7 linked regions of the Homo sapiens genome follow. The protein of the gene in region 4 interacts with the protein of the main gene of each other region in a pairwise test. Each region holds a gene or a part of one and is shown on either strand. Other genes may lie near its edges. The genes, in order: PATZ1, USP10, TTC19, JPH3, ZBTB25, ZNF774 and WWP2.

Region 1 (4,320 bases), on a different chromosome or scaffold from region 4:
CTCCAGAGACGATGGTCTTATTAGCAAAAGGCCACTGCTCCTCAGTTGCATTTTCTTGCCTGGTGTGCCTGCACTTGGCACTCCAGAAGCAAATCATCCTTTGGCAGGTTCCACATCAATGCAGGGGTTGGGGACTGCTTTCTCCTTGTCCAAACCCTGAAGGGGCCATTCCCAACTGCACTGTGTTGGAGTGGGCCTACATAGCTTGATGTGAGTCCAGGGGAACAGCAGGTTCCCTGCATCCATCCACTTGTGTGCTTACCTCTGACTGGGGAGAAGGCTTCCTCTACCTTTCAAGCAATGATGTTTGCATTCAAATGTCTCTGTCAAAGGCGGATTCCTGATAATCTGTTCCTCTTCACCATACCAGCACATAGGCATATATACAAAGATCCTGCTACAGAAACTTTAAAGGAAGAAAATCATGGTGATCAGCCAGGGCCTTCTCCCTTTTCCACTGTTCAACTCAACTGATTTCCTCAACTCAAAAATGTGGGAACAAGCTTTTCTAGCCATAATACTCCCTCCACTGCAAATGATCTTCCTGTACAAATAGTATCATACACATCCTGATATGTCTGTATGACAAAGCCAGAGTCATCTGTCTCTTCAACTTGCATCTGACTCACGTGTGAGGCTGCAGGAGTCAGGCTGCCTTTCCTCTTTGCCATTCTTCACAGCCAGGAGTCATTTTTGTGGCAAAAATTGAAAAAGACAGATCTATAGGTAGATACTTAAGTCAACTATTTAAGAATTGTTGGGATTGAAGGATCTGAGGGCACCTGGAAGTTCACCTGATTCAATCTTAACTGTTCTGACATTCAGCCTTTGTTTGAACACATGCAGAGATAAGAACATTCGTTTATTCGTGCAACCCCTCCTGTAGGTACAGGCTTGGTGGCAGCAGGGCAAAGGAGGACACAGAGCTCTCTGCATTTTGATTCCAATGTCTCAATGTTTTTGGTGCTCAGAAAGAACTTTATCCTCTTCCTTTTTTTTTTTTTTTTTTTTTGTCTCTTCCTATTTCTGCCCAAGGAATGAGTCCAGGAGTAGAATCCTGCTCCTTCTCTTCTGATAAAAACTGCAATTGTTTTCTCTTCTTTCTGAGTACCCAGCATGGGTTGGACCAGCACCTTCTTTAGTCTTCTTGCAGGAAAGGGACTTCCCGCTCTGGCTCTGGAACCCAGAGATGTTTGGCCTGTGATCCAGACCCAGTCTTGGCTTTTCTGAGAAAAAGTAGACTCTGGTTTACTCTTCTGGATTCTCCATTCCGGTCATGTAGCTTATGGCTGTTGCCCAAGTTCTCTTTACTAGCCCTTGGAAAATAAATCCTGATGTACAATAGTTGTTGGCTTTGCCACATCAGCTGCTTCCTTACTGGGCCAACTTTCCCACTGTCCCTGCTGCTCTCAGTTTTTCTCTCCTCCTGAGCTGGGCTTCAAGGGCTGTAGCCCTGGGTCTCCTGTCCAGTTTCTGCCCTACTCCACCATCTGGTCTGGGCTTTCTGAGTTTTATCATGAGCACCCTTCTCCACTCAGCAGTTTTCAACCTCTGGTCTCTGACCCCAGTTCTCAGACTGGGAACTTCCATATTGAAAACTTGACAAAATGCCTGCTAACAGCTTGTTACAGCAGGTTTTGAGTTATCCGGGGGAGCTGTCAGGAAGCCAGGTTAGGATGAAGCAAGACAAGAAACGACATTATTTCTAGGGCTGGGGAAGCCCCAGTCAAGACAGTCAGCCACAGCCTGATAACTCTCCCTGCATGCGCAAGCCCACCGCTTGCAACCTGGAGGAAGCTCCTGTCAGCAATGGGCTCTAATGACATGTCAGAAAACAGAACAGACAGCTTAAGAGACCTTCACTACTACTTCCCTGCTTTCACAGCAGGTGTCCTGGTGGTACAAACCCCAGGTATGAAGCTGCAAGGAGGGACCCAGTTCCAGGACACCAAGAACACCCAGCTACTCAGCAATCTCCTTCCACCGTGGACCTCGGCACATGAACACAGCACAGGCACCCAACGATTCCGCCAAGGCCTGCAGGAGTGTTGTGCCTGGTCCAACCCAGAGTGTCAACAAGCATGTCTTTCCCAACATTGTTACAAAGTGCAAGGATAGAGTCTCCCAAGTGTGCGGCTCCTTTCACCTACCTTGTCTCCTGGGATCCTCATAACAGCCCTGTGAGGTGGGAAAGGGGGCTATTCTTAACCCCATTTGAGAGATGAAGAAACTCAAGCTTAGAGAGGGAATGGGAGAACTCGAGGCCACCTAGTGAGAGGCTGGGACTAAACCCTGGGTCTCTTGACTCCTGGTTCAGTGCTGCACCCACTAAGCAGGCTTTCGGAAGCATTGGGACAAGCAAGAATGCCCCAGGAGATAAGGACATCCCAGTGCTCCCCACTGGCCAAAGCAAAGCACACCATGCAGAAGCATCCTCACGTTCACAGATAGCTGCTCCAACCTCCTTTAGCACAGACACAGTGCAAGCCTCCACTGATGCTGTGCTTGCAAAACACAAACATCTAGCACTTCCAACAGCCAACTAGACCCGGCAGAACCTTGGGGACAGGCTTGACTTCACCCAACACAACACCACTGCCACAGAGTTAGACACTACTTAGGCCCACCTTGTCCTCAAGCATGCTGCCCTGCTCAGAGCACCTTCCACTTTCCTCTCTCAAGGCCACAATCTACCTGAGTTTGGGCTCTCTTCTGACTACTTGTGCTACAAAGTGTCTGCTCCTTGTTTATCTCCAGACTCAACCTCCTTCCCTGGCTGCTGAATTTCATATGCCAGTGAATCAACCAGCAAAAGCTCTCAAGCCGGACCAACCTCTTTTTCTCTCACTTTGGGACCTACTAACTCCCCCACCAACCTCAGTGGTTCAGTGGTGTCTGCAAAATGCATCCATCCTGCCATCTGAGTAGCAGGTGAGAGTTATGGGCCCAAGCTTGGGAAGAACCTCTCTCCTTCTGTTTTGACCTGCTGGTCTCCTGGGACTTCCCATTCTAAGCACCCCAAGCTTCTTGGGAAGGAAGAGGTAGCAAATAGCTAGTTGGGTGATGAAGGTGTTTATCATTCAGTGGGAAGTAGGGGGTGGCTGTGCAAAGAGTGGAGTCTGAGGCAGGGTGATTGAGACACCCCTAGGCCTCCCATACACGCTCAGGCCCATCCTCTGGAAGTGAGGAAACAGTGGGCAGATTACCTCGGTTACAGATACTGCAGAAGTTGCTGGGCCCCTCGCTGTGCTTCTTCAGGTGGTCTGCCATGTATGCTGCCCGCAAGTACTTCCCACACACCTGGCAGGGCACCTTGTCTTCATGACAGGCCAGGTGGGAGCGCAGACGGTCTCGGGTGGCAAAAGAAGCATTGCAGGTCTGAAGGCAGAAAAGAAAATGGGATGATGTGAAACCCAGCACCCCACACCTGACTCCCCACCAAGTGCACCATGAAGCAAAGGCAATTTCTGGCCATCACATGACCTCCCTTTATAAAGACAGCTTTAGAGTTTGGCTCAGGCTCCCTACCCAGAATGCCAAGAGGCTGCTCTTATTTCCCATGGTACCTCCTTACGGGACACTTGAGTGGGAATCACTGGTACTAACTAAATGACTACTGGAAATGTACCCAGGACATGGCAAGCTAAGCTCTATACCCCTCTACACAATGAAGAGTTACACATTTGCTCATCCTTAGACATTAAGAATTGACTTTAGGTGCATTAGCTATAATGCACAGAATTACATTTACATGAATTTACAGATGAGTTATTGGCATATAAACCAGCCTTCCTGTTCTGTATCCCTGGGTTTCCCCTAGTTTTATACAAAGAATTATATTTGTTCATTTTATTCAAAAGTGACATTAGTCTTGGCCAGGGAAATGGAAAGGAAAGGCAGGACAAAGTGCAGAGATAATTATTCGTAATATTTTCACGAGTTTGAATTGAAAAAGCAGCCCATTAAATGATAGTGGCAATTCTGACGACATGAGAATTAGCAGACAGCAAGGGCCAGAGGCTTCAAAAGTGTCTGTGGGCCGGGTGCGGTGGCTCATGCTTGTAATCCCAGCGCTTTGGGAGGCCGAGATGGGTGGATCACCTGAGGTCAGGAGTTCAAGACCAGCCTGGCCAACATGGTGAAACCCCATCTCTATTAAAAATATAAAAAATTAGCCGGGTGTGGTGGCAGACTCCCGTAATCCCAGCTACTTGGGAGGCTGAGGCAGGAGAATCACTTGAACCTGGGAGGTAGAGGTTGCAGTGAGCCAAGATCGTGTCACTGCACTCCAGCCTGGGCAACAAGTCAAGACTTCCTCTC
Region 2 (4,320 bases), 2.8 Mb from region 4:
AGTCCTCCCTGTGATTGGCTGCTTTTAGACTCCTGCTGATTGGTGCGTTTTAAGAACCGATTGGTGCATTTTACAAACCTCTTGCTAGCTACAGAGTGCTGGTTGGTGCGTTTTACAATCCTAGCTACAAAGTGCTGATTGGTGCATTTTACCATCCTCTTAGAGGACAGAAAAGTTCTCCAAGTCCCCACTTGACCCAGGAAGTCCAGCTGGCTTCACCTCTCAATATGAGTTATAATTCAGCCAAGCAAATCACAATAGAATTACAAAGGGTAAGTAGGTTAGACGGACAACACTTGTACAGAAAGTTTAGGAAGCTCTGAACCCCAGATGGCACCAGGCTACAATCAGAAATACCAGATGGTAAGAGCAAGAACTTGAGAGAAAGGCTCAGACCACGTTAAAACCCCTTCTCTGTAGATCTCAGGACACCACAATCATCCACACAGGGCCAGAAGCCGGGGCACGGGCACCCTTGCACGTGACATCCCTCTCTCCATGTCTTCCGTCTCAGAAGGCTTCCTTCCCACTACTGAGGGTGGCGTCTGGAGGCACCGCTCAGCCGCCCCAGTGGCACTCAACTGAAGAGCATTTAGCCTTGACCTACAGCAACTATTTTGGTGATACTGAAAACGGTGGGCTATAGAAACAAGGGATGAGGAGGGGAAGGGGAGAAAACCTCCTCCTTTCTGCCAATCGAAGAGTCAAAAACTTCGTGTACCCAAATCACTAATCCATTTGAAAATACTAAACAAGCATAACCTGAGTGGTGGTTCAGCTTCCACAAACACGTCGAGCTGATCGAAGGGCAGATTTTAATTCTGCAGGCAAACTCATGCCCCCATGAATTTCAGTTACCCGAAAAGGCATTCGCATTCAAAGAAACACGCACACACCTTTAAACCAACTTTGTGATTTTTATTGATGGGCGACAACTTTATACTCCTAGATATCACTAAACTGTGTACAATTAGGGACGCAGCATTAGAGAAGAGCAGACAGCAGAATTAAACAGAGCAGACTGAAGGAGAGATCTTCATTATTTGCCCATTTTTCATTATGTGTACACAGAAGCATGAATGCAATTTGAAATCTTTTAATGGCAATAAAGTTACAATCACCCATCTATGTAGACTAACATTTTAACTCCAAATATTTGATCTGCAATGTGTACGTAAGCAGTTTCTCTCAGTACAATTATTAAAATTTTTCCTGTTAGGAACCAGCAACTTATTTTTTATGTTTATTTTTCTTTTGAAGTAAGAACTAGTTCTTCTTTGATAACTGGCTCATTTTTATCATTTATCAAAAACTAAAGGGTAGGGAAGAAAAGTGTGATGGATTAAAAAATTTCTTTTTTAAGGAAAGATAAAATTCATTTTCACAAATTTACAAGTGTTGTTGCTGGTGCAGGATTTATTCTACTAAGCAATGAGACTGGGGATCAAATCCACTTTCTTATCTCAGGAATCAGCATTATTTCAGAAATATGGGTTTTTGTGTATTTTCTAAAATCAAGCAACAGTCTGTTTCAACCAAATGATTTTGATTTGGAAGTTAGAGTCAACAGAAGCTGTGTTGTGCACGAACCCCAAGGCATCTCCTTTTCATTCTAGCCCATTTTTGCAAAGGGAGAAAGAGTTTCTCTCTAAAGAGCCACTAAAGAGAGGCGGGAAGTGAGTGTGAGGTGGTGTCCTACGAAGCGGGCACTGGGCGCACACACAGCGCACACAGGGTTTACAGCAGGTCCACTCGGCGGTAATACAGGAGGTAGGCTGTGCGTTCAGCAGTTGGTTTCACCACCTGGTACTGGTTGATCACCTTGACTGTCTGGTCATCGATGCGCAGCCAGCCATTCAGACCGATCTGGAAGACGTCTGTAGTGTAATGGCCGCCCGTCGCACTGTTGCCGTGATGGTAGACCACTGGAAGAGAGCCCAGCAGGCAGCAGAGTGAGAACAGCACTGCACACGAATCATTACAGGTCTCCGCCGACTTCCCTCCAGGGATGCATCCTATGTGTAAAACCCCTCTCCAAAGCAGGTGGGACAGAGAGATGTCATCACACAAACCAATGCTATTTCAACTCAAACACGCAAGCAATCCATAATAAAAACTTTTCTATAACTGCAAGGTAAGGGTAAGTCAGATAGGTACATGTGTGCATGTACGCATATTAACCACATATTTAAAATGTCCCACGCCTCACACAGACACTCCTACACAGCCATCAGCTGTACAGGCCTACAGACCTGGCTCATGCCCTTGGATGTGGCTGACTCTACTTCTAGACTGTCCTGAAGAGATTATCTGAATCTTGGACAGAGATTATGATGTCATTTATAACAGTGAAAAAACGGAAAACCTCAATAGCCACTAGAAGAAATGACTGATGAGTAAATTATATTAAAATAACACAATTTATTTTTTCGTGGAATAGATTAAGAATGGTGATGCGGGAATACGCTTATGGTATATTAAATGAGAAAACAAGGTCCTTAGGCCTTCTGTGGCCCATCTATCCTAAAGACACGGGACACAATCTCCCGGTGCCGGCCCACATGGCAGGAGGGACCCTGGGACTGCTAACCACGGTTGCTTGAGCGTGGAGCTGTGGTGGGGCACTGCGGAGATGGTGCTGGTAGTTACGCATTTGCCTTTAAAAAAAATTACCCATTTTTCTATGTTTTAACAGAACAAAACACACACACACACACACACACACACAGTTATTTACTTAAAAAAAAAATCCTATAACCAAGAAGCCTTAGTCAAAGGCCTAAAACAAAAAATCTGTAGAAGATGTCATGAAAACATTAAGACAGCCACAGAACACATCCTCCACTTCTATGGAGCAGAGGGGCACAGGTCTGCCTGGCCAGCAGCAGACACCAGCCTCGGGAAGGCGGCTGTCCGGCAGCATTCCGCGGGGAATGACAGGGCAGCCTGCTAAGCTGCGCCCACCATCAGTGGCACAAAAGAAAAGGAACCAGGAGAGATGCAAGACTTGGCTGGTAGGGAATTTCAGCACTAAAACAAGACCAAACATCACCAGGTTCTAGTCGCAGTTGTCACGTGGAGGGGCTAAATGACAGCAGGAGGCCTCAGTCCTCTCTGGGCCAGGGACCTTGGCTGGCTAGAGGACAGTGCTTATGACTGAGGCCACCAGTCAGACTCCTGGGCTCTGCACAAAGAAATCCTCTGTGCAGGGACCCCGGAGGAGACTGAACAGCATAGGGACAGCAAGACTGTGGGGCCCGTACTTCGGAGAGCCAGGGACACAGCCAATCCAAGGGCATAGCTTCATCCTGTGCTGCACAAGTCACAGCCATCTTGTGAAAGGGCAGGAAGCACCCATGACAGCAGCATGTCCCCTGGATCCCAAGTTCACTTTGAGACTTCTGTCCTAGATCTTCACCTCACAGACCTAACTGACTGGGCTAAGAGTTTTGCTTCAAAGCGACCATCAGTAGAATCTGCAGGGCCTGGGGGTTTTACTAACTTGTCTTTCCCACAAGACATCTCCATTCTAAAATGTCAAGGGGGACTGCATGTCACCATTCTAGTTTCATAAGCAGCAGCCCAGTTAACTACCCTGGGCTGAGCCGTGTGTCACTCACACCTGCAAGCCCCCCTGACAGGAGCGCTGAGAACCGCCTGAAAAGCTTGTGCGCGAGATTGCTTCTCCCAGGCCCCACAATCACAGCAGTTCTTAAAAAGTGTTCCTTTGCTCACTCTACAGGTAATTCTAACCAGTCCGGTGACCTCATTTCCAAGATCAGAATAGGCTTCCAGCCTGGCCAAAAGGGCGAAACCTCGTCTCTATTCAAAATACAAAAATTAGCTGGATGTGGTGGTGCACAGCTGTAATCCCAGCTACTCGGGGGGCTGAGGCACAAGAATCACTTGAACCTGGGAGGCAGAGGTTGCAGTGAATGGAGACTGTGCCACTGCACTCCAGCCTGGGCGACAGAGCAAAACTCTATCTCAAAAAAATAATGGGTTAGGGGATGAGGATTCAGGAGGGCAGGGGAGAGCAACCCAGGCCCAGGTCCCGGGGCGAGGCAGGTTGCAGAGTCGGGGAGGGGTGTGTGTGCTCACACTGGGGCCCTGACCAGGAGAGGAGCAATCCCTAGCCCCTGCCCCTGCCCAGTGATGTCCCCCGCAAGAGCCTCCAGGGGAAGAGGTGCAGGGAGAAGGCGGAGAAACTGCTGGCCACCCACTGGGACCTGGGTGCCACACTCCAAGGAGCCAGGCAGGATAATGGCTGGCTGCAGAGTCTGAGGACTCAGACCTTCCATTCCAGACAGGGCTGGAGAC
Region 3 (4,320 bases), on a different chromosome or scaffold from region 4:
TATTATTTGACTTTTTATACTAACAGATAACATTGGAAATTAAAAAGAAAAATATAAATTTGTACAAAATTATAGAATACTCAGAGAAACACAAATAAAATATAAATTCCCTATAAACCTACCAACCAAAGAGAATCACTGCCTGTATTTTGATATCTATCATTCAGCCTTTGTTCCATTCCTATTTTTAGTCTACATACTAACTATACTGTTTTGTAACCAAAGTTTTCACTTAATTTTTTATGGGCATTTCCTCAGTAAGTACATATATGTCTACAACATAGGTAACAAAATAATTATCCTAGAGCAAGGTTTTATGTAATTAAGTAATGTAATTTTATGTAATTAAGTAATGTTATCCTAGAATAGAGATAGTTGTGTCAATAAAAAGCACGTAAATTTGATAATGGATTTGCTTTGTGCAAAACTGAATAGGTAGGAATTCCTTTTCTAGAAAAAATAAGATGAAGAATCATGTAACACATTTTCTATACTGTGCAACTAGTAAAATGTAAAAATAATATTTATAATAGAAATTAGCTTGCTCTATCTAACAAGAATTCCTTTGCCTGGAAAAAAAAAGTGTTTTCATAATATGTTACTAAATTGTTAAAACTCAGGTTACAAAGTAGGATATACAGTATCATCCCAAATTTATTTCTTAAAATGTAACCCGAAAAGCCGTAGTAATAAATAAAACAGTAGCTCTTTCTTAATAGTATGATTACAGATGATTTTTACTTAGTGCTTTTCTAAACTTTCTTCAGTGTTTACTGGTATTATTTTTTGAATCAGAAAATATAGCTTTACACTCCTAAGAAACCATAGTCAACACTATAAATGAAAGACAGCAAAGGTGTAAATAGTTCAGAAGTGACTTACTTGACAGCTAGACTTGTTTTTACACCTCTTGTGGATTTCCTCAAAGCACTTCCACACTGCACTGAAACTGGATTTATTTGCTGGTCTTTCTTGGGTCTTTTGTTCTTTCATTCAGTAATTATTGAGCCTCTATTATGTGCCAGGCACTGTTCTAGGCACCGAGGATTTAGCACTGAGTATAATGGATGAAGTCTCTATCCTTCTTTGATATGGAAGACAAAGACTAAAAATTTTTAAACAAAAACATACTTTTAGTGGAGAAACACAAGCACACAACACACACACCTCTACTTTTAAGTGTGATGAAGAAAAGTAAAGGAAAGAGGAGTAGAGCAATAGTAAGGTGGGAAGAGATGATAGTTTTAGTGAAGGGAGCACTCTGAGGAAGTGCTATTTGAGCAGAGACCTGAGTGAAGTACGGGAGTTGGCCAGAGAAAGGTAAGAGAGAACAGTCTAGGTAGGGGGAATATCAAGCAAAGAGGCCTTGAGGTGGCACTAAGCTTGGAATGTGCCAGAATAAGACCAGTGTGGTGAGACTGGAACGAGCAAGGGGAGAGCAGCAGATGGCATGGAAGAGGTGGGTGGGCCCAGGTCATAAGCGCCTTACAGGTCCATGCAGGGATTCTAAATTTATTCTAAAGGTGATACAAAGGTACTGAGGTCTTGAAACAGTGATGGCCTGGACCAAAGCAGTAGGGTAATGGGATGAGACATGGTCAGTATGGATATATTTTGATGGCTGATCCAGTATAACTTGCTGATGGATTAGATATGAGGAATGAGGAAGAAATCATGGACAATTCTTAGGTTCTTGGCCAAAGCAACTAAATGAGTAGTGTGCCATTTACAAATCTGGGGCTGACTGGTGACGAAACAAGTTGTGAGCGGCAAAACTGAGACCTATTTTGGACATGTTAAGTATGAGATGACCATTAGACTTCAAGTCAAGATGTCGGGTGGGCAATCATAATTATAAGTCTGCCATTTGGGGGCAAGTTGGGGCTGAAGGTATAAATCTAATATTTAAAACTATGGAACTAAAAGATATCTCCTAGGTGTTGGGGCAGAGAGAAAAGAGAATAGGGCTGAAAACAGCCCTAAGGCGTGCCAACATTAAGAGGTAGGGAAGTCTATTCACCTCACTAGAGAGACCAGTGAGGCATCCCAGAAGCCAAGTGAAAGTATTTTCAGTAGGAGACAGTGATCCCCTAAGTTAAAGCTGCTGATGAGTAAGTTAAGGATTGAGAAGTAACCATTGGATTTGGTGACTTTGATAAAGGTAGCTTCAGTGGAGTGATGAAAACAAAAAAATTGGTGTACAGTGATCCCTCCTACTCCACAGTTTCATTTTCTGGGGTTTCAGTTATCTGCAGTCAACCAGAGTCCGAAAAATATTAAATGAAAAATTCAAGAAATAATCCGTAAGTTTTTAAATTGCATGCCATTCTGGGTGGCATGAAGAAATCTTACACTGTCACACTCCATCCTGCCCAGGACATGAATCATCTTTGTCCAGTGTACCCAAGTTGTATACGGCAGCTGGCCTCAGTCACTTAGCAGCAGTCTCAGTTATCAGATCAACCCACAATGTTGCAGTACTTGTGCTCAAGCAATCCATATTTTACATAATGGCCCCAAAGTGTGAGAGTGGTGATACTGGCAATTTGAATATGACAAAGAGAAGTCATAAAGTGCTTCCTTTTAATGAAAAGGTGAAAGTTCTCAACTTAGTAAGAAAACAAAAAACAAAAAACAAAAAACTGTATGCTGAGGTTGATAAGATCTACAATAAGAATGAATCTCCTGTCTGTGACACTGTTAACAGTATATAGTTATAATTGTTCTATTAAAAGTTATTGTTGTTAATCTCTTACTGTGCCTAACTTATAAATTAAACTTTATCATAGGTACATATATATAAGAAAAAAACACAGTGTATTAGAAGTCGTTTCAGGCATCTGCTGGGGGTCTTGGAACATATTCCCCATGGATAACGGGGGACTACTCTATGTTCAAGAGAGAGTTAGAAGACCACTAGGTACAGAAGAGTTGACTGCTGTATCCCTACCATCTCGGTAGCTCTTGGTATAGAGTAGGTATTGAATAAATGTCAAATCTGAAAATTCTCAATACTTCAACCCAAATTAAGAAACCCAAAATGGTGGAGAGCTAGAGAGCTTCCTGCTCATCCAGTTCTATTCCTAGCCTCCAGAATGAGTGAGGATGGATTGTAAAAACATGAGCTTTTTTTCTCTTCTTTCTTAATTTGCTGTATATCTAGGGCTAAAACGTAATAAGCATTTTGATTGGTAGCTGAACTAAGAGATACGAGAAACACCTTCTCCTTCTGCTCCCCAATTTTCCTTAAGTTATATGTAACTAAAAGTTAACAAATAAATTATGACCATGTTACCAAGGGGGTTAAAAAAAAAACCACCACCAAAACAGCAGTCAAATATTTTAAATAAAACATCTTATTCCAAAACTTCTGCTGATACCTTAAAGACAGACACTTATTTTGCAAAATAGGTAACTTTCCCTCTTCCCAATTTAGATCTCTTTCCATTTCTCAAAAGTGTAAAGTAAAGCCTTTTGTGGAGAAAAGGCAATGCCCAGATAATGGGTTTCCTACCTGACATAATGTCTTCTGCTAATTCCTTTTCTCTTTCAATTTTTTCCTCTAGAGTTGAAATGCAGAATTCATAGCCAGCAACAGCAAATTCCTGTCTGTAAAGCAAAATCAATAATCAGCCATTTACCTTTTCTTCTTTTTTTTTTCTTCCTTCTGTTGAGATGGAGTTTCGCTCTTGTTGCCCAGGCTGGAGTGCAATGGCGTGACCTCGGCTCAGAGCAACCTCCACCTCCGGGGTTCAAGCGATTCTCCTGCCTTAGCCTCTCGAATAGCTGGGATTACAGGTGCCCGCCACTATGCCCAGCTAATTTTTGTATTTTTGGTAAAGACAGAGTTTCACCATGTTGGCCAGGCTGGTCTGGAACTCCTGACCTTAAGTGATCCACCCACCTCGGCCTCCCAAAGTGGTGGGATTACAGGCGTGAGCCACTGCGCCCGGCCCATTTACCTTTTCACAAATTCTTTTTATCTTCATTTTTCCAGCTCAGTTTAAACATTATCAGTAAAGGAAGTGTAAAATGGGAAGAGGGAACTTTGCTTAAAGTCTAAGTAGTGTCAAATCTGCCATTTCTCAAAGCAGTTTTTTTAAGTCATCCATTTAATATAACTTAGGACACAAAAAGCTAGGAATGCTGCCCTAATTTTAATAACTGACATAGCCAGCAGTATTCATCATCTCCCACTAACAGATGGCCTCCAGTGAATCAACTTCTCCATGTGTGAAAGCCTTACCCCTGTTCAAAGTAATACTACCCTAAACAGTTCAGGCCGCCCTACAGTGAGGATTCCAACTGTTGACCTCATAC
Region 4 (4,320 bases):
TTGTCTTCCATGAAACAGGTCCCTGGTGCCAAAAAGGTTGGGGACCATTGGTCTAGAGGACTCACCCATTGAGGCAGATGTAAAGAGAATGGTGGTGAAACAGTTTCACTGACTGGTACAGACAAATCATTCCTCTGCCTGCCTTCGGCTGTGCACCTATGACCCCTGTTATGCTCCAAGAGAAGTGAACACACATATCCTATGGCAGGAATACACCTTAGACTTCAGAGCAACTTCTATACATCTTACTAAAGTCTCACCCTAGGCCGGGCACAGTGGCTCACACCTGTAATCCCAACACTTTGGGAGGCCGAGGCACGCAGATCGCCTGAGTTCAGTTCAAGACCAGCCTGGCCAACATGGCAAAACACTGTCTCTACTAAAACCCAAAACATTAGCCAGGTGTGGTGGTGTATGCCTGTAATCCCAGCTACTCGGGAGGCTGAGGCATGAGAATGACTTGAGCCCAGGAGGCAGAGGTTGCAATGAGCCAAGATCACTCCACTGCACTCCACCTTGGGCTACAGGGTGAGACTCCATCTCAAAACAGATAAATAAATAAATAAAAACAAAAAAATAAAGTCTCACCCCCAAACCCACCTCCACAAGCTGGGAGCTGCTCTCCCAGTTGACCAGCAGAGGATGTTACCTCAGAAGACACTCACTTCTTCAGGAAGGACTGACAGGGTAGGGGTGAAAACATAGGCAGGCATGCCAAGTGGCAGCCCTTCCTGGAGCATGGAATCCATGCACCGACTGAGTAGGACCAGGCACACTTCTTCTTTTTCTTTTGAGATGGGGTCTGGCTCTGTCAGCAGGCTGGAGTGCAGTGGCACCATCTTGGCTCACTGCAGCCTTGACCTCCGGGGCTCAAGCGATCCTCTCACCTCAGCCTCCTGAGTGGTGGGACCACAGGCGTGCAGCACCACACCTGGCTAATTTTTGTATTTTTTGTAGAGACGGGGGTCTCACAATGTTGCCCAGGCTGGTCTCAAACTCCTGGGCTCAAGTGAACCTCCCATCTCGGCCTCCCAAAGTGTTGGGATCGCAGGCGTGGCCCCCACATCTGGCACAGGCATAGGCACACTTCTGGTGGTTGAGTGTGCTGGAGGGTCCGGGACCAGGCGGTCACTGGCAAGGAGAGATGGTTTGGCTTGAAGAGGATGCCTAGAGCGAAAGTGAGTCCAGCCGTCCACCCAACCCAGGCAGGCAGCCGGGAGCGCTCTCCAAGGTGCTGAAGGGACTGCCTCTCTTCTCTCCTCCTCTCCTCTCCAGACTTGGAAGACAGCACCTTACTCAAGTTCGAGCCAGGACCCCAGTGCAGCGGTGGCTCCATCCACCGCATGGCCTCTCACAGCCATGAAGCTACCAGCGGGGGAAGCGGCCAGTCCACGGAGACACGGACCAATGTGGAAAATTCACACCAACATCACCCTCTCCTCTAGTACTCACAAGTCTTTTTGTCATCTAAGGACACAAAGGGCGTTACATTCAACATTATTAGCTCACAGTTGAGAGCTCGTCATATTTAGAGTTGTGGAGGCTTGGGGAAAACAGGAAGAAAAAGTCTTGGAAAGGAACAGCAGAGGCTCCTGCCCCCACCCCCACACTCCACCCCTTCTTGCTCTCTCCGGCTGGGTGTCCTCAGAAGAGAAGGGGTCAGAGTTCTCTCTCTCCTTCTCTGTGTCAGCTGGGGCTGCTCACTCACTACTCCAGATCGCTGCTGTAGGCGGGTGCCGGTCCTCACTCCCCGGCCAGCTCATCTCAGGATTCCTCACACAAAGCCCATCAAACGGCCTCACGGCCAACGTGGGTAGGGGTGCCCTTCAGCCACATTTGTTTCTCAGCTATAACTGGCAACAAAAAAATAGCTGTTTGCTTCTTCCTTTCTCTTTTCACCTTACGGAGCCTTTCACCACCCGCCCCCCGAAGTAGCGGAAAGAGAATCTCGGAGAAAACGCTTTCGTCTCCAACTGCTCAGGGCTTGCTTCTTGTTTCTGAAATGAGTTTCTGTTGGCATAATCTCCGCACCAATGAACCTGATTCCTTCTAACCTGGGCACTCATTTGAAAAAGAAATTACTTGTTGCATAGTCATAGTCATAGCCAAGCACAAAGCATACGCCCCATGGTAGTTTATTTTGTTGAGATGAGGGATTTTTCTCCCTAAAAGGGCACTAACAGCATAAACGTGTGTTTAAAATGGAAACGAAGCACACCACTGCCTCTGTCATCTGAGCTCCCCGTTTACAGGCCTGGTGGAGATTCAGAGTCCTTGGCCAGTGGAGAGCAAGCAAGGCCGCAAGGGCGCAGTGGCTGCGTTCTGGGGGACGGGGTGGAAAATGTCTCCGGGTGGCAGGTGTTTTGTGCGCGTGTGTGTGCGCAGGCGCCTGGGGGGATCTGAATTCCGACTGTGGGTGTGTGTGATTTGTGTGGGTTGAGGAATCTGGGCCGGTGAACGGGACCTGAGTATGAGGGGGAGAGGCTTGGGCGTGAGATGACTCATATCTTTCAGGGTGTAGGAGGGCTTATTGGAGGGGGTAACTTTCGATTCGAGGGGTTCTGTGTACACAGCACCCGAAGGAAAGATCTATACCTGTGCGGTGCAGCACCGGCATGCATGGTGGGCCTCAGGGGGCCAGGGGTCCTGGGCAGTGTATGGGTTTGCCCGTCTGTGCATGGGCATTCACCTGCAATTCTGGGCCACTGTACGCACAAGAGAACGAGAGATATAAACGAGAGGAAAGAACAGGAGGTGTTTTTGCACAGGGGCATTTAGAGAGCGACGTACCTAGCAAAGGCCCAGGCTCTGGGATGGCTGTCCTGAGTGTGACGCCTGCTGGTTCCTCCCAACCCACACCCACTGGGAGCCTCCACTTCCCAGTGTGGAAAATGAGAATAACAAGAAAATCACCCTCTAGAGGTGTAAGAATTAAGGGCTGTAATTCATTTAACACTTGCCACATGCTTGGCAGACAGTAAGTATCTAATGTTGCTATTTAACATCATTTACATGATCACCAGTCTCCTGTCCAGATGTTGGTTCTAATAATGATCATTGTAAGTGACATGCATTGCCTGGAAACTGTAATGAAAAAACTAACGGTAAATAATAATGTATGCTTACTATATTCCTGGCATAGCCACGCACACCATTCTCAATTAATCCTCACCCACCTTACAGGTATTGTTATCAACCTTTTGTAAAGATGAAGAAACAAGCTCAGAGAGGTTAAGTAATCCAACCAGGGTCACAAAACAGGGCATGTAGGGCAGGGATTCAAGCCCAGGATGCAAGCTGGGGTTGTGACTGGAAGCAAGTGTGCCTGTACCCCACACCCCCAGGCCTCACCATGCAGACGGTAGGAGCTACTCAGCTCAATCAGGGAGTACCCTAAGGGGAGGACACACCTGGAGGAGGAGGAGTTGGCACAGGTGTCCCCAGCTGAAATTCCACACCAATTCCAGCTACATGTGGAATACGCTGGCCGCTGGTGCATCATTCATGAAAATCGCCATTTCCCCAAGTCAGCGCCCAGAGCTGGGCTGAGGTTCCAGAGCTTCGCTGATGGCTGCCCAATATTCCCCCACTTCTTGTGCAAAGGAAAAGTCAGAGTGGAGCTGGGGCCATTAACTCCTTCCTCACTGCGACATGGCTGTCACCACCCACCAGTTGACTGGGAAGGAGGCATGGAGGTCTCTGCCCCATTCTGGCGATCCCCACACCCTGCAGGCTCCTTCCATGGGCTGCCTGGGGACACTCAGTGCCATAATCACCCCCTTCCCAACAGGAAGCTGGGAGCCCTCCAGAAAAGTGGCCCAGATGTCCAGGCCCGAGTCCTCAAGACCAGAAGGGTCAATTCTATTTCCTGTCATGCCATGTTGCCAACCAAAAGGGAGAGCCGGCCATGAAGCTCCCCATCTGCATCCCTGCCTGGCTTTGCTTATGGGAGAGCTAAGAACCGCATACCCCTTGAGAGGATGTTGACAATCTGGGCTTCTTCCGGCAATGTGATGCAAGAACGAGGGGGGTTTGGTCCCAGACAGATCGGGGATCCCTGCAGCCAAAGGCTGGGACTCCTGAATCACAAAGCCCGGGCCTTACTGGCCTCATCTGTAGAATGGACATGATCAGGCAGGACCACAAGGAGGGGAAGGGCTTAGGGGAGCAGGATGCTGAGGGAGCTGTCTGGCTGGAGTGGAGAGCCCAGGGAAGTGGACCTATAGAGAAAAACATCTCTCCCCTTAACCCGTCAGATCCTAAACTACACGGCCAGCCACAGAATCAGATCCTTTCTTCCCTAAAAAGTCACAACATAAT
Region 5 (4,320 bases), on a different chromosome or scaffold from region 4:
TGATGATAAGTCCCCCAAACATTTGATGAGAGTTGGGAAGCCAGTATCCCCTGAGCACCAGAGGATCCCTGAGGAGGAGTGACATCTCTAGCTCAGCCAGGATACCGTGTTATGTTATTAACATTTATAGCTAACATCGAATAGCAGTTTCCATTACAACATGATTTTCACATAAGTTATTTAACTCTGAGGCAGGAATCAGTATCTCATTTTCATTTTTCTAATGAGGAAACAAGATTAGAAACATTGTGTTCACATAGATGGAAAAGGACAGGTCTGTCTTCATGTGTCACTCATACCAAGCTATCTTCTTACCAGATGAAAAAGGGTCATATTTTATGGTTCAGCAGAGTTTATATCAGTTGTCATAATGGAGGAATTTAGTGTTAGCCGTGTTTGCAGTGAAAGTAATAGGATTGAAAACTTGAATAATTTCATTTAAATTTAGATCTCCTTGTTACTCTGTAGGTTTGTGTGAACTGTAGACAATTTTGTATTAATAAAAAATAATGCGTATATACATACACACCTATCTACATTTATCTTGTCCTTTTTTTCAGAACCACAATGGACACTGCCAGCCATAGCCTTGTTCTTCTCCAGCAGCTGAACATGCAGCGAGAATTTGGTTTTCTGTGTGATTGCACAGTTGCAATTGGAGATGTTTACTTCAAAGCCCACAGAGCAGTGCTTGCTGCTTTTTCTAACTATTTCAAGATGATATTTATTCACCAAACAAGGTAAGGATGTGTTTTTGTAAATAAGAATTTTTAATATTGTGATTTATATAAGCTTTATTATAGTATCATTTTGGAAATTCTTTGTTACGGAGTCACACTAAGAAGTAAAATTATAATTTTTTTTTTTTTTTTTTTTTTTTTTTTTTTTTTTTGGCGACAGAGTCTTGCTCTGTCACCCAGGCTGGAGTGCAATGGTTCAGTGTCGGCTCACTGCAACCTCTGCCTCCCAGGTACAAGCGATTCTCCTGCCTCAGCCTCCCGAGTACCTGGGATTACAGGCGCCTGCCACCACGCCCGGTTAATTTTTGTATTTTTAGTAGAGGCAGGGTTTCACCATGTTGGCCAGGCTGATCTCAAACTCCTGACCTCAGGTGATCCGCCTGCCTCAGCCTCCCAAAGTGCTGGGATTACAGGCATGAGCCACCATGCCTGGCCAAATTATAATAATTTTTTATACATTAGTAATTAAACTCAGTGTGTAGGATCCATAATGGAAAATAAGAATGAAAATAAGAATAGCTAAAATTGGCTGGGCGCCATGGCTCACGCCTGTAATCCCAGCACTTTGGGAGGCCAAGGTGGGCGGATCACAAGGTCAGGAGTTCGAGACCAGCCTGGCCAATATGGTGAAACCCCGTCTCTACTAAAAATACAAAAATTAGCCAGGCATGGTGGTGGGCGCCTGTAGTCCCAGCTACTCGGGAGGCTGAGGGAGGAGAATTGCGTGTACCTATGAGGTGAAGGTTGCAGTGAGCCGAGATCGCGCCACTGCATTCCAGCCTGGGTGACAGAGCGAGACTCTGTCTCAAAAAAAAAAAAAGAAAAAGGAAAGAATAGCTAAAATTTATTGAAGGCTTATCCCATACCCAAGCACTAAGTATTTGCCCTATAATGTAAATTCTACTGCTGTCCCTATTTCAGGAAAAAGAAAACTGAGACTGAGTTAAGTAACATGCCCATGCAGGATTATACAGCTAATAAGTTAGATGCAGATTTGTCTGAAGCTATGTCTATGCTTTTAGTCACTAAGCTGTTAATTTTTGTTTCATATAACACTTTTGTTTTTTTTATTTTTTATTTTTATTTTTTTTGAGACGGAGTCTAGCTCTGTCACCCAGGCTGGAGTGCAGTGGTGCCCAGGCTGAAGTGCAGTGGCATGATCTCAGCTCACTGCAACCTCCGCCTCCCAGGTTCAAGCAATTCTCTTGCTTCAGTCTCCCTAGTAGCTAGGACCACAGGTGTGCGCCACCACACCCGGCTAATTTTTTGTAATTTTAGTAGAGACAGGGTTTCACCATGTTGGTTAGGCTCCTCTTGAACTCCTGACCTCAGATGATCCACCTGCCTCGGCCTCCCAAAGTGCTGGAATTACAGGCGTGAGCCACCGCACCCTGCTGATTTCAATAGGTTCTTTCAGAAGTTTTAAGATATCTTTATTGTGGCTATAAACATATAAAATTTGCCATTTTAACCATTTTTAATTATACAATGCAGTGGTGATAATCACATTCGCAATGTTGTACAACCATTACCACTGTCTATTTCCAAAACTTTTTTATCACCCCAAACAGAAACTTTGTACCCATTAAGCAATAACTCCCCATCTCACCCTCTCAACCCCCAGAAACCGCTAATTTACTTTCTATCTCTATGAATTTGCCTATTCTAGATATTTTATATAATACTTGTCCTTTTGTGTCTGGCTTATTTTACTTAGCATGATATTTTCTGGGTTCTCCATGTTGTAGCATGTATCAGAACTTCCTTCTTTTTATGGTTGAATAATATTCCATTGTGTGTGTAAGCCATCTTGTGTTTATCCACTCATCTTTTGGTGAACACTCAGCTTCTTTCTACCTTTTGGCTACTGTAAGTAATGTTGCAGTGAACATTGGCATACAGGTATCTGTTTGAGTCCCTGTTTTTAGTTCTTTTGATCGTTTACTTGATAGACTGTTAAATTCCTTAAGAGCAGGTACCTATTTTATTCATCAGTTTTCTACCGCTGGCATCTAGTATAGTGCATATCACTTAGGAGTCACTTGATTAATGTTGAACTATTCAGAATGTATGTCTGTGTTTCCTAACTTTAGGCAGTAGATTGAATACATGAAGACTTTTTGCTAGGCCATAAAGTTGGTATAAAATGAAAGTTTAAGCCTTTGTTGCCATGTTTTATTAAGGCAGATTGCTAGGTTCGAACTTCTTAGGAAGAAATTGCTTTAGTCTCAGACTATACTGTTAACTGAAAGGCCAGCTAGGTTGTGTTTCATTTCTTGTGGGTCTGTTTTTGTTTTTAACAGTGAATGCATAAAAATACAACCAACTGACATCCAACCTGACATATTCAGCTATTTGTTGCACATTATGTACACGGGGAAAGGGCCAAAACAGATTGTGGATCATAGTCGTTTGGAGGAAGGGATTCGATTTCTTCACGCCGACTACCTTTCTCACATTGCAACTGAAATGAATCAAGTGTTCTCACCAGAGACTGTGCAGTCCTCAAATTTATATGGCATTCAGATCTCAACAACCCAAAAAACAGTTGTCAAACAAGGACTGGAGGTCAAAGAAGCTCCTTCCAGTAACAGTGGAAACAGAGCTGCTGTCCAGGGTGACCACCCCCAGTTGCAGTTGTCTCTTGCTATTGGTCTGGATGATGGCACTGCAGACCAGCAGAGGGCCTGTCCTGCCACCCAGGCCCTGGAGGAGCACCAGAAGCCCCCAGTTTCCATCAAGCAGGAGAGATGTGACCCAGAATCTGTGATCTCCCAGAGCCACCCCTCACCCTCATCAGAGGTGACAGGCCCCACTTTTACTGAAAACAGTGTCAAAATACACTTATGCCATTACTGTGGGGAACGTTTTGATTCCCGTAGTAACCTAAGGCAACATCTCCATACACATGTGTCTGGATCCCTGCCATTCGGTGTCCCTGCTTCCATTCTGGAAAGTAATGACCTTGGTGAAGTGCATCCCCTTAATGAAAACAGCGAGGCCCTTGAATGCCGCAGGCTCAGCTCCTTCATTGTTAAGGAGAATGAACAGCAGCCAGACCACACCAACCGGGGTACCACAGAGCCTTTGCAGATCAGTCAAGTATCTTTGATCTCCAAAGACACAGAGCCAGTAGAATTAAACTGTAATTTTTCTTTTTCAAGGAAAAGAAAAATGAGCTGTACCATCTGTGGTCATAAATTCCCTCGAAAGAGCCAATTGTTGGAACACATGTATACACACAAAGGTAAATCTTACAGATATAACCGATGCCAAAGGTTTGGTAATGCATTGGCCCAGAGATTTCAGCCATACTGTGACAGCTGGTCTGATGTCTCCCTGAAAAGTTCTCGCTTGTCACAAGAACACTTAGACTTGCCTTGTGCCTTAGAGTCAGAGCTCACACAAGAAAATGTGGATACTATCCTAGTTGAGTAGCAGCTTCTCTTTCAGAATTTTTATACCAATTCTGAAAAAGAAAATTTGCGTGGCATTTTTAATTCATAAATTATTTTCCTCCTCAAGTTTCATTGACTTTTTTTCTTCACAGCTTATCCATGGTTTTAAGGTTGTATATATT
Region 6 (4,320 bases), on a different chromosome or scaffold from region 4:
CGGCCTGGGCGACAGAGCGAGACTCCGTCTCAAAAAAAAAAAAAAAAAAAAAATGTCTGCTAGTAAGAACAAAATTCTAAGGCAGCATTCCAAATTCTTCATCTAAACAAGGCTGAAATGCTAGATTTCCTTCCACTGGGGAGCACTCACATCTCACCTGTGTGGCTTTCCCTCGGGATCTTCCTCGCCTCAAAGTTTTGGAGTGGTAGGACCCATGGCTCTTCTTTCTGCTCCGGCTGGGAGATTACACTAGGCCTGGAAATTCTACACAGGAATGTAAACATAGGATGTGAGTCTGAGCCAATCACACAAGGCCTGAGCAAAATCCAAGCCCTACTCCCTGCCTAGGTATGGAAGAACACCTGGGGAGCTCTAACGTGTATTTGGTGTCATTAAAAAAGTGCAGCCATGGTACAGTGATAAAACACGGTGATTTCCCCAAAATGTTAAGAAAAAAAAGCCCTTTTCCTCCCATAAAGAAAAAAAACCAGACTCAGGTGACAGAAACTCTGAAGTAAATACAATAACCATTTCTGAAGGTACAAGGCTAAAGCTAAATATGGAGAGGATTTTATCAGAAACCAAGCCTCCATGACCTCACCCTTAGAAACAATGAAGGAAGTTAACTATAATGTTGGGCTTTAAAATTTTCCCAGAATGGCAGCAGTCAAAAAAGCCATGAGAAAAAGACAAACAGTTGTTAAGTAGCCTGTAAATATACGAAAAATGTTTAACCTCACTATAATCAAAGAAATTCCATTATAACAATGATACACTGAGGCAATATAGTGTAGAGGTAATGAGTGCAAACTCAAGAGTCACACTGCCTGGGTCTGAGTCATCATCCTGCCTCTTACAAGCTGTGTGGCCTTAAGAAAGTTACTTAAACTCTGTGTCTCAATGTCTTCATCAATAAAATAGGGATAAGAGGCCAGGCTCAGTGGCTCACACCTATAATCCCAGAACTTTGGGAGGCCGAGGCAGGCGGATTACGAGGTCAGGAGTTTGAGACCAGCCTGGCCAACATAGTGAAACCCCGTCTCTACTAAAAATTAGCCGGGCATGGTGGCACAGGCCTGTAGTCCCAGTTACTCGGGAGGCTGAGGCAGGAGAATCGCTTGAACCCAGGAGGCAGAGGTTATGGTGAATCGAGGTCACACCACTGCACTCCAGCCTGGACGACAGAGAGAGACTCCATCTCAAAAAAAAAAAAAAAAATTGGGATAAGAATAAGATCCATTGGCCAGGTGCAGTAGCTCACACCTGTAATCCCAGCACTTTGGGAGACCAAGGCAGTTGGATCACTTGTGAGGCCAGGAGTTTAAGAGCAGCCTGTCCAACATGGAGAAATCCTGTCTCTACTAAAAATACAAAAATTAGCCACGTGTGGTGGTGCACACCTGTAATCCCAGCTACTTGGGAGGCTGAGGCATGGGAATTGCTTGAGCCTGGGAGGCGGACGTTGCAGTGAGCTGAGATTGCACCACTGCATTCCAGCCTGGGCAACACATTGAGACTCCATCTCCAAAAAAAACTTCAATAAATGTTAACTATTATTGCTATTTTTCCCAGACTCTTTTTTTGTGTTTTGTGTGTGTGTTTGTTTGTTTTTGAGACAGGCTCTTGCTCTGTCACCCAGGCTGGAGAGCACTGGTACAATCACAGTTAACTGCATCCTCGAGCTCCTGGCTCAAGCGATTCTCTCACCTCAGCCTCCCAAGTAGCTGGGACCAGAGGCACAAGCCCCTACACCTGGTTAATGTAACTTTTTGTAGAGACAGGGTCTCATTATGTTGCCCAGGCTGGTCTGGAACTCCAGAGCTCAAGTGGTCCTCCTGCCTCAGCCTCCCAAAATGCTGGGATTATAGACATGAGCTGCCACACCCAGGCCCAGACTCTTTAAATTATAATACCCACTGTGAAAGGTAGAATATAAAGAAATGCGCACTTTCATATAATGTTTGTGGGAATAAATCAATTGATTCAATCTTCTTGGAAGGCATTTTGCAAAGTATTAAATACCTTAGAAATGTATCTGTTCTTTGACCCACCAATTCTAATTCTGAGAATTCTAAGAAAATGATAAAATTATACTTCAATAAAAAATACTTTTTAAAAAACGAGCTAAAAGATGTTTATCACAACCTGGTGAAAGTTTAGAAATGACCTAAATGTCCCACAACAAAGGAATAATTATATAGCTCACTGCAGCCTCGAACTCCTGTGCTGAAGGGATCCTCCTGCCTCAGCCTCCCAAGTAGCTCAGGCAATTGCTATTTTTATAGGTTAAAAAAAGGTCAGATATATGGTTCAATCTAATGTTTGACTTCATCAACAAAATAATATTGTATTCCATAAAACAAAATACTAGGTGGTTATTTTAAGTGATGTAAAGAAAGATATACTCACAATACAACATGGAAGAAAGAATGTACAGCTGAATATACAGCATAATCCCAATATTATTCTTTTGTGCTTCTTTTAAAATTGTATATATGCTTAGAAAAATGCTGGTAGGATAGTAACTCTTCATTGGTGGGATTAGGGATGATGTTTGTTTTCATTTTGCTTGACTTTTTATTGAATGAGTATACATTACTTGTATAATAGATGAAGTAGGCCAGGCGCAGTGGCTCACACCTCTAATCTCAGCACTTTGGGAGGCCAAGGCCAGCGGATCACTTGAGGTCAGGAGTTCAAGACCAGCCTGGCCAACATGGTGAAACCTCGACTCCACTAAAAATACAAAAATTAGAGCTGGGCCCACTCCTATAATCCCAGCACTTTGGGAGGCCGAAGTGAGCGGATCACTTGAGGTCAGTAGTTTGAGACCAGCCTGACCACATGGAGATAACCCATCTCTACTAAAAATACAAAAAATTATCCAGGAATCGCTTGAACCTAGGAGGCAGAGGTTGCAGTGAGCCGAGATCATGCCATGGCACTCCAGCCTGGGCGACACAGCGAGACTCTGCCACAAAAAAAAAAAAAGAAAGAAAGAAGTAAAGCAGGAGGAAGGGTAGCCATGATATTTGAGAAAGAGCATTGGAGGTGTTTTTGGTTTTTTTTATTTATTTTTTTTTTTTTGAGATGGAGTCTTGCTCTGTCGCCCAGGATGGAGTGCAGTGGCATGATCTTGGCTCACTGCAAGCTCCGCCTCCCAGTTCACGCTGTTCTCCTGCCTCAGCCTCCCGAGTAGCTGGGACTACAGGTGCCCACCACCATGCCTGGCTAATTTTTTGTATTTTTAGTAAGACGGGGTTTCACCATGTTAGCCAGGATGGTCTCGATCTCCTGACCTTGTGATCTCCCTGCCTTGGCCTCCCAAAGTGCTGGGATTACAGGCATGAGCCACCGCGCCCAGCCTTGTTTTTTTTTTTTTTTTTTTTTTTGAGACAGAGTCTTGCTCTATTGCCCAGGCTGGAGTGCAATGGCGTGGTCTCAGCTCACTGCAACCTCCACCTCCCAGGTTCAAGCAATTCTCCTGCCTCAACCTCCAAAGTAGCTGGGATTACAGGCGCCCGCTATCACACCCAGCTAATTTTTTTATTTTTAGTAGAGACAGGGTTTCATCATGTTGGCCAGGCTGGTCTCGAACTCCTGACCTTATGATCCGCCCACCTCAGCCTACCAAAGTGCTGGGATTACAGGCGTGAGCCACTGCCCCCAGCCTGTTTTTAAGTGACAGAAAAAATTACCTCCTTTTCCACAAAGACCTCAGAAGTCTCAGAAGTTAAGTGGCAGAGGTGAGAGTCCAACCCAGGCTGGAAAAGGGGGATAGTAATACATAAGTCAAAAAGTTATGATGAGATATTAAAAGGACAATAAATAGCAAAGACATTTGCAAACCATAAAATGCATAAGGAAGTAATTGTTTTTCTCCCAAGGAGGCAACAATTAATCTTACAGAGGTCTGGAGCTCTAAGATGCCAACATACCAGAAACTCCTCAGACCTGGGCCCTCTCCAAATATCTAAGTCTCAAATTAAAGGAGAGCAGTGGTCAGGCATGGTGGCGCCCATAATCCTAGCACTTTGGAAGGCGGAGGCCAGTGGATTGCTTGAGCTCAGGAGTTTGAGACCAGCCTGGACAGCATAGTGAGACCAGCCTTGCCAACATAGCAAAATCCTGTCTCTACTAAAAACACAAAAAATTAGCTAGGCATGGTGGCACATGCCTGTGATCGCAGCTACTCAGGAGGTTGAGGTGGGAGAATCGCTTGAGCCCAGGAGGCACAGATTGCAGTGAATCGAGATCGCGCCACTGCACTCCAGCCTGGATGACAGAGCGAGACCCCGTCTCAAAAAAAACAAGATAAAT
Region 7 (4,320 bases), about 18 Mb from region 4:
TTCTAGAAATGTCTAATAGCCCACTCCTTAACTTGCATATAATTAAAACTGGGTATAAATATGACAGCAAAACTGCCCCTGAGCTGCTACTAGGGACACACTGCCTATAGCGTAGCCCTGCTCTGCAGGAGCAGTCACGGAGCTGTAACTCTGCTGCCTCAATAAAGCTGTTTTCTTCTACTACCAGCTTGCCCTTGAATTCTTTCCAGGGCAAAGCCAAGAACCTACCCAGACTAACCCCCAGTTTTGGGGCTCACGTGCCCTGCATCAGTAGTACAGGTACCTCCGAAAGTAAGGGCAGAAGTGGGGCTAAAAACAGGAGGACTGGCAAAAGCCTATCTTGGGAATGATTAGAGTCCCAGAGTCCCCTCCCCACCCAGTTCAACCAAGCAGTTGCCCCTTCCTAATCCCAAGCAGACTTTTAGTCCAGCACTTTGGGAGGCCGAGGCAGGCGGATCACCCAAGTTCGGGAGTTCGAGACCAGCCTGACCAACATGATGAAACCCTGTCTTTACTAAAAATACAAAATTAGCCAGGTGTAGTGGTGCGTGCCTGTAATCCCAGCTACTTGGGATAGGCCGAGGCAGGAGAATAGCTTGAACCTGGGAGACAGGTCATGGTGAGCTAAGATCACACCATTACACTCCAGCCTGGGCAACAAGAGCAAGACTCTGTCTCAAAAAAAAAAAAAAAAAAAAAAAAAAGACTAAAAAGACTTTTAGTTTCTCAACAGGTGAAACCAAACTCAAGACTTCAGGCATAGTTGACAATAGGGATAAGGCACCATATTGACCCAGCGAGACAGTGAAAGTCTACATTATAAACTGAAAAGGTCAATTTCCCCCACCCAACTCACCTTCCCGCACTTGGGTCCTAGCATACATGTGTACTTCACACCTAAATGTCAACAAACATTGCAGAAGTCCTTGGCCAAAAAGCCAGATATAAAAACAAACAGAGAGAAAAAGAGAATTGTTTTTCAGCAATTGACAAGCTGATCCTAAAGTAAGGAAATGCAAGGAACCCAGAATCGCCAAAACAATCTTGAAAAAGAACAAAGTTGGATGACTAACACTTTCCAATTTTAAAACTTACTACAAAGCTACAGTCCTTCAGGCTCTGTGCCTCATGCCTATAATCCCAGCACTTTAGGAGGCCCAGGCGGGTGGATCACTTGAGGTCAGGATTTCGAGACCAGCCTGGCCAACATGGGGAAACCCCGTCTCTACTAAAAATACAAAAATTAGCCGGGCATGGTGGCAGGCACCTGTAATCCCAGCTACTCAGGAGCTGAGGCAAGAGAATAGCTTGAACCCGGGAGGCGGAGGTTGCAGTGAGCCAAGATAGCACACTGCACTCCAGCCTGGGAGACACAGCAAGATTTCATCTCAAAAAGAAAAATAATAATTATTACAGAACTTTTGACAGGAGAAAACAACTACACATCAGATTAAGCTAGTGGCAGCTCCTGCAATACCTGAAGCACCTGATCACTTTTATCACCCTACCTCAGCAACAACCTTTCAGACCTGTCAATCTTCTGGAGGCTAATAAGCTGAACCACTCATTTGCCTTTGAGTGATCCAGAGCAAGTTACTTACTGAGAGGATGGAGAGGAAAAAGCAAACTCAGTTTCTTCCTGCTATACTCTCACAACACAGAATACTACCTTTTTTTTTTTTTTTTAATAGAGACAGGATTTCACTATGCTGCCCGGGTTGATCTCAAACTCCTGGGCTCAAGCGATCCTCCTACCTCTGCCTCCCAAAGTGCTGGGATTACAGGTGTGAGCCACCACGCCCAGCCCCACAGAATACTTCTGACACCAGATGTGTGGGAGCCCCACATACCAAGTAAGCAATCAATTCTGCAGCTGGCAGACACCAGCTGGGTGTCCTCTAATTCAGTTCCTACACTATCCACCTGGAAATAGCATCAGATCCCACAGGTTTAGTTCCCCAAGACTGCCCCTGACTTGCGACATCAATTGCAAGCTCCAGGTTGTTTTACCCGTGCTTCTGACCAACCGGCTATAAATCGAGGTTCTTAGGATTGATAAATTTGCTAGAGCAACTCACAGGACTCAAGGAAACACTTTATTTGCATTTACTGATTTATTATAAAGGATATTATGAAGGATACAAATGAAGAGACGTAGGGCGAGGCATGTGAGAAGGGGCACAGAGCCTCCAAGCCCTCTCTGAGGGTGCCATCCTCCAAGAACCTCCACGTGTGCAGCCATCCAGAAGCTCCCCAAACCCAGTCCTTCAGGGTTTTTATGGAAGCTTCATTACGCAGGCATGATCAATTAAGTCACTGCCACTGCAGATCAAGTCAACTTTCAGTCCCTCTCCCTGTCCCAGAGGCTGGGTGTGGGACTAAAAGTGCCAACCCTCTAACTACAAGGCTGGTTTCCCTGGCCACTGGCCCCCAAATCCTGAGACTATCCAGGAGTCCCCAACCAAAGGTCAATTATTAGCACACAAAAAGACACTGACCAGGTGTGGTGGCTCACACCTGTAATCTCAGCACTTTGGGAGGCCAAGGCAGACAGATCACCTGAGCTCAGGAGTTCGAGACCAGCCTGGCCAACACGGCGAAATCCCATCTCTACTAAAAATACAAAAATTAGCTGGGTATGACGGCATGTGCCTGTAGCCCCAGCTACTTGGGAGGCTGAGGCACGGGAATCGCTTAGAGGCTGCAGCGAGCCGAGATTATGCCATTGCACTCTAGCCTGGGCGACACAGCGAGATTCTATCTCAAAAAAAAAAAAAAAAAAGACACTGATCACTTGGGAGATTTCAATGATTTTAGGAGTTATAGGCCAGGAAATGGGAGGAAGACTAAATATATATTTCACAAAATCATACCTACCCTCTCTAAATCTCAGTTTTCTCATCTGTGAAATGAACCCAATAATAGTACTTACTTTATAAGATTACTGTACTGACTACATGAATTCAGGTAAAGCAGAGGACACACAGTAAGAGCTCTTCAAATATCAACTACAAACAAAACCACTTCTCGATACTGAAATTCTTGGCTCTGGCATTACAAGCACCTCAATTCCTAAAATTCTTGACCCAGCTCTGAGTCAAGAAACCAGTGAACACCGATCTTGAGATGAAAAGACCTGTGTAGAAGGAGCCAGGGAAAAGCAGAAATTACACACCAGTATCAATATTTTATTTCTTGTTTTAAAAAATTTTTTTCAATATAATCCATGGGTTCACAAAGATTTTATTTCTAATTAACCAGCTGTAGAAACAGGCAGAGCTTATTTCTAACTAGAGATAAACCTTGCACCCACTTCTATTTTTTTTTTTTTTTTTTTTTTGAGATGGAGTCTTGCTCTGTCACCCAGGCTGGAGTGAGTGGTGCAATCTCGGCTCACTGCAAACCTCCACCTCCCGGGTTCAAGCAATTCTCTTGCCTCAGCCTTCCGAGTAGCGGGGATTACAGGTGCCTGTCACCACGCCTGACTAGTTTTTTGTATTTTTAGTAGAGATGGGTTTCATCACGTTAGCCAGGATGGTCTCGATCTCCTGACCTCATGATCCACCCGCCTTGGCCTCCCAAAGTGCTGGGATTACAGGCGTGAGCCACTGCGCCCAGCCTGCACTCATTTCTTGAAAGATATGCAAGGAAAAGCTCTGTCCAAAAGATTCTCCTGTTCTTCACAGGCTCATGCTACTCCAACACTAATGCTTCTTTCTTGGCCTCCTTCCTCTGTCCAGCATTGAGTTACTACCTTCCATTCTCCAAAGGCCCATATTGAAAAACAATCAAACAGAATCAACTTTGCCAAATGACATCCTTACAAAGACTAAGCACGGAAAAAGAGAAAACGGGAGGGAGCAGGGAGGTACACTATTGGAAGCCCCGTGGAATTACAGGCTAAGAATAAAAGAGGCTGACTGGAAAGCAGATCTGAAGACAAAACAAGAAGCAAAAGGCATGGGTGACTTGAGGAAGAGGACGGGCCCTAGGTCAGGACTGCCATGTCTTGGTACTTGTTATTTTTTATTTATTTAATTATTTTTGAGAAGGAGTTTCGCTCTTGTTGCCCAGGCTAGAGGGCAGTGATGCAATCTCGGCTCACTGCAACCTCCGCCTCCTGGGTTCAAGCGATTCTCCTGCCTCAGGCTCCCAAGTAGCTGGGATTACAGGTGTCTGCCACCACGCCTAGCTAATTTTTTGTATTTTTAGTAGAGACGGGGTTTCTCCATGTTGGCCAGGCTGGTCTTAAACTCCTGACTTCAGGTGATCTACCCACCTCGGCCTCCTAAAGTGCTGGGATTATAGGTGTGAGCCACC

What was found.
Region 1: the proteins of JPH3 (region 4) and PATZ1 interact in binary tests that used the Homo sapiens proteins (3 or more experiments, as listed by UniProt).
Region 2: the proteins of JPH3 (region 4) and USP10 interact in binary tests that used the Homo sapiens proteins (3 or more experiments, as listed by UniProt).
Region 3: the proteins of JPH3 (region 4) and TTC19 interact in binary tests that used the Homo sapiens proteins (3 or more experiments, as listed by UniProt).
Region 5: the proteins of JPH3 (region 4) and ZBTB25 interact in binary tests that used the Homo sapiens proteins (3 or more experiments, as listed by UniProt).
Region 6: the proteins of JPH3 (region 4) and ZNF774 interact in binary tests that used the Homo sapiens proteins (3 or more experiments, as listed by UniProt).
Region 7: the proteins of JPH3 (region 4) and WWP2 interact in binary tests that used the Homo sapiens proteins (3 or more experiments, as listed by UniProt).

Annotation. Positions count from the first base shown.
Region 1 is NC_000022.11:31,332,486-31,336,805, forward strand, and holds part of PATZ1 (POZ-, AT hook-, and zinc finger-containing protein 1 isoform long C), read right to left. Parts: intron 3,379-4,320; coding exon 3,207-3,378; intron 2,932-3,206; exon of another isoform or gene 2,864-2,931; intron 1-2,863. UniProt on the Homo sapiens protein: Transcriptional regulator that plays a role in many biological processes such as embryogenesis, senescence, T-cell development or neurogenesis. Interacts with the TP53 protein to control genes that are important in proliferation and in the DNA-damage response.
Region 2 is NC_000016.10:84,776,500-84,780,819, reverse strand, and holds the end of USP10 (ubiquitin carboxyl-terminal hydrolase 10), read right to left. Parts: intron 1,926-4,320; coding exon 1,738-1,925; 3' UTR 898-1,737; downstream 1-897. UniProt on the Homo sapiens protein: Hydrolase that can remove conjugated ubiquitin from target proteins such as p53/TP53, RPS2/us5, RPS3/us3, RPS10/eS10, BECN1, SNX3 and CFTR.
Region 3 is NC_000017.11:16,005,763-16,010,082, reverse strand, and holds part of TTC19 (tetratricopeptide repeat protein 19, mitochondrial isoform 1 precursor), read right to left. Parts: intron 3,610-4,320; coding exon 3,515-3,609; intron 1,106-3,514; coding exon of another isoform or gene 1,077-1,105; exon of another isoform or gene 1,019-1,076; intron 1-1,018. UniProt on the Homo sapiens protein: Required for the preservation of the structural and functional integrity of mitochondrial respiratory complex III by allowing the physiological turnover of the Rieske protein UQCRFS1.
Region 4 is NC_000016.10:87,605,508-87,609,827, reverse strand, and holds part of JPH3 (junctophilin-3), read right to left. Parts: intron 1-4,320. UniProt on the Homo sapiens protein: Junctophilins contribute to the formation of junctional membrane complexes (JMCs) which link the plasma membrane with the endoplasmic or sarcoplasmic reticulum in excitable cells.
Region 5 is NC_000014.9:64,486,781-64,491,100, reverse strand, and holds part of ZBTB25 (zinc finger and BTB domain-containing protein 25), read left to right. Parts: intron 1-560; coding exon of another isoform or gene 561-567; coding exon 568-740; intron 741-3,043; coding exon 3,044-4,178; 3' UTR 4,179-4,320. UniProt on the Homo sapiens protein: May be involved in transcriptional regulation.
Region 6 is NC_000015.10:90,354,795-90,359,114, reverse strand, and holds part of ZNF774 (zinc finger protein 774), read right to left. Parts: intron 265-4,320; coding exon 158-264; intron 1-157.
Region 7 is NC_000016.10:69,768,337-69,772,656, reverse strand, and holds part of WWP2 (NEDD4-like E3 ubiquitin-protein ligase WWP2), read right to left. Parts: intron 1-4,320. UniProt on the Homo sapiens protein: E3 ubiquitin-protein ligase which accepts ubiquitin from an E2 ubiquitin-conjugating enzyme in the form of a thioester and then directly transfers the ubiquitin to targeted substrates.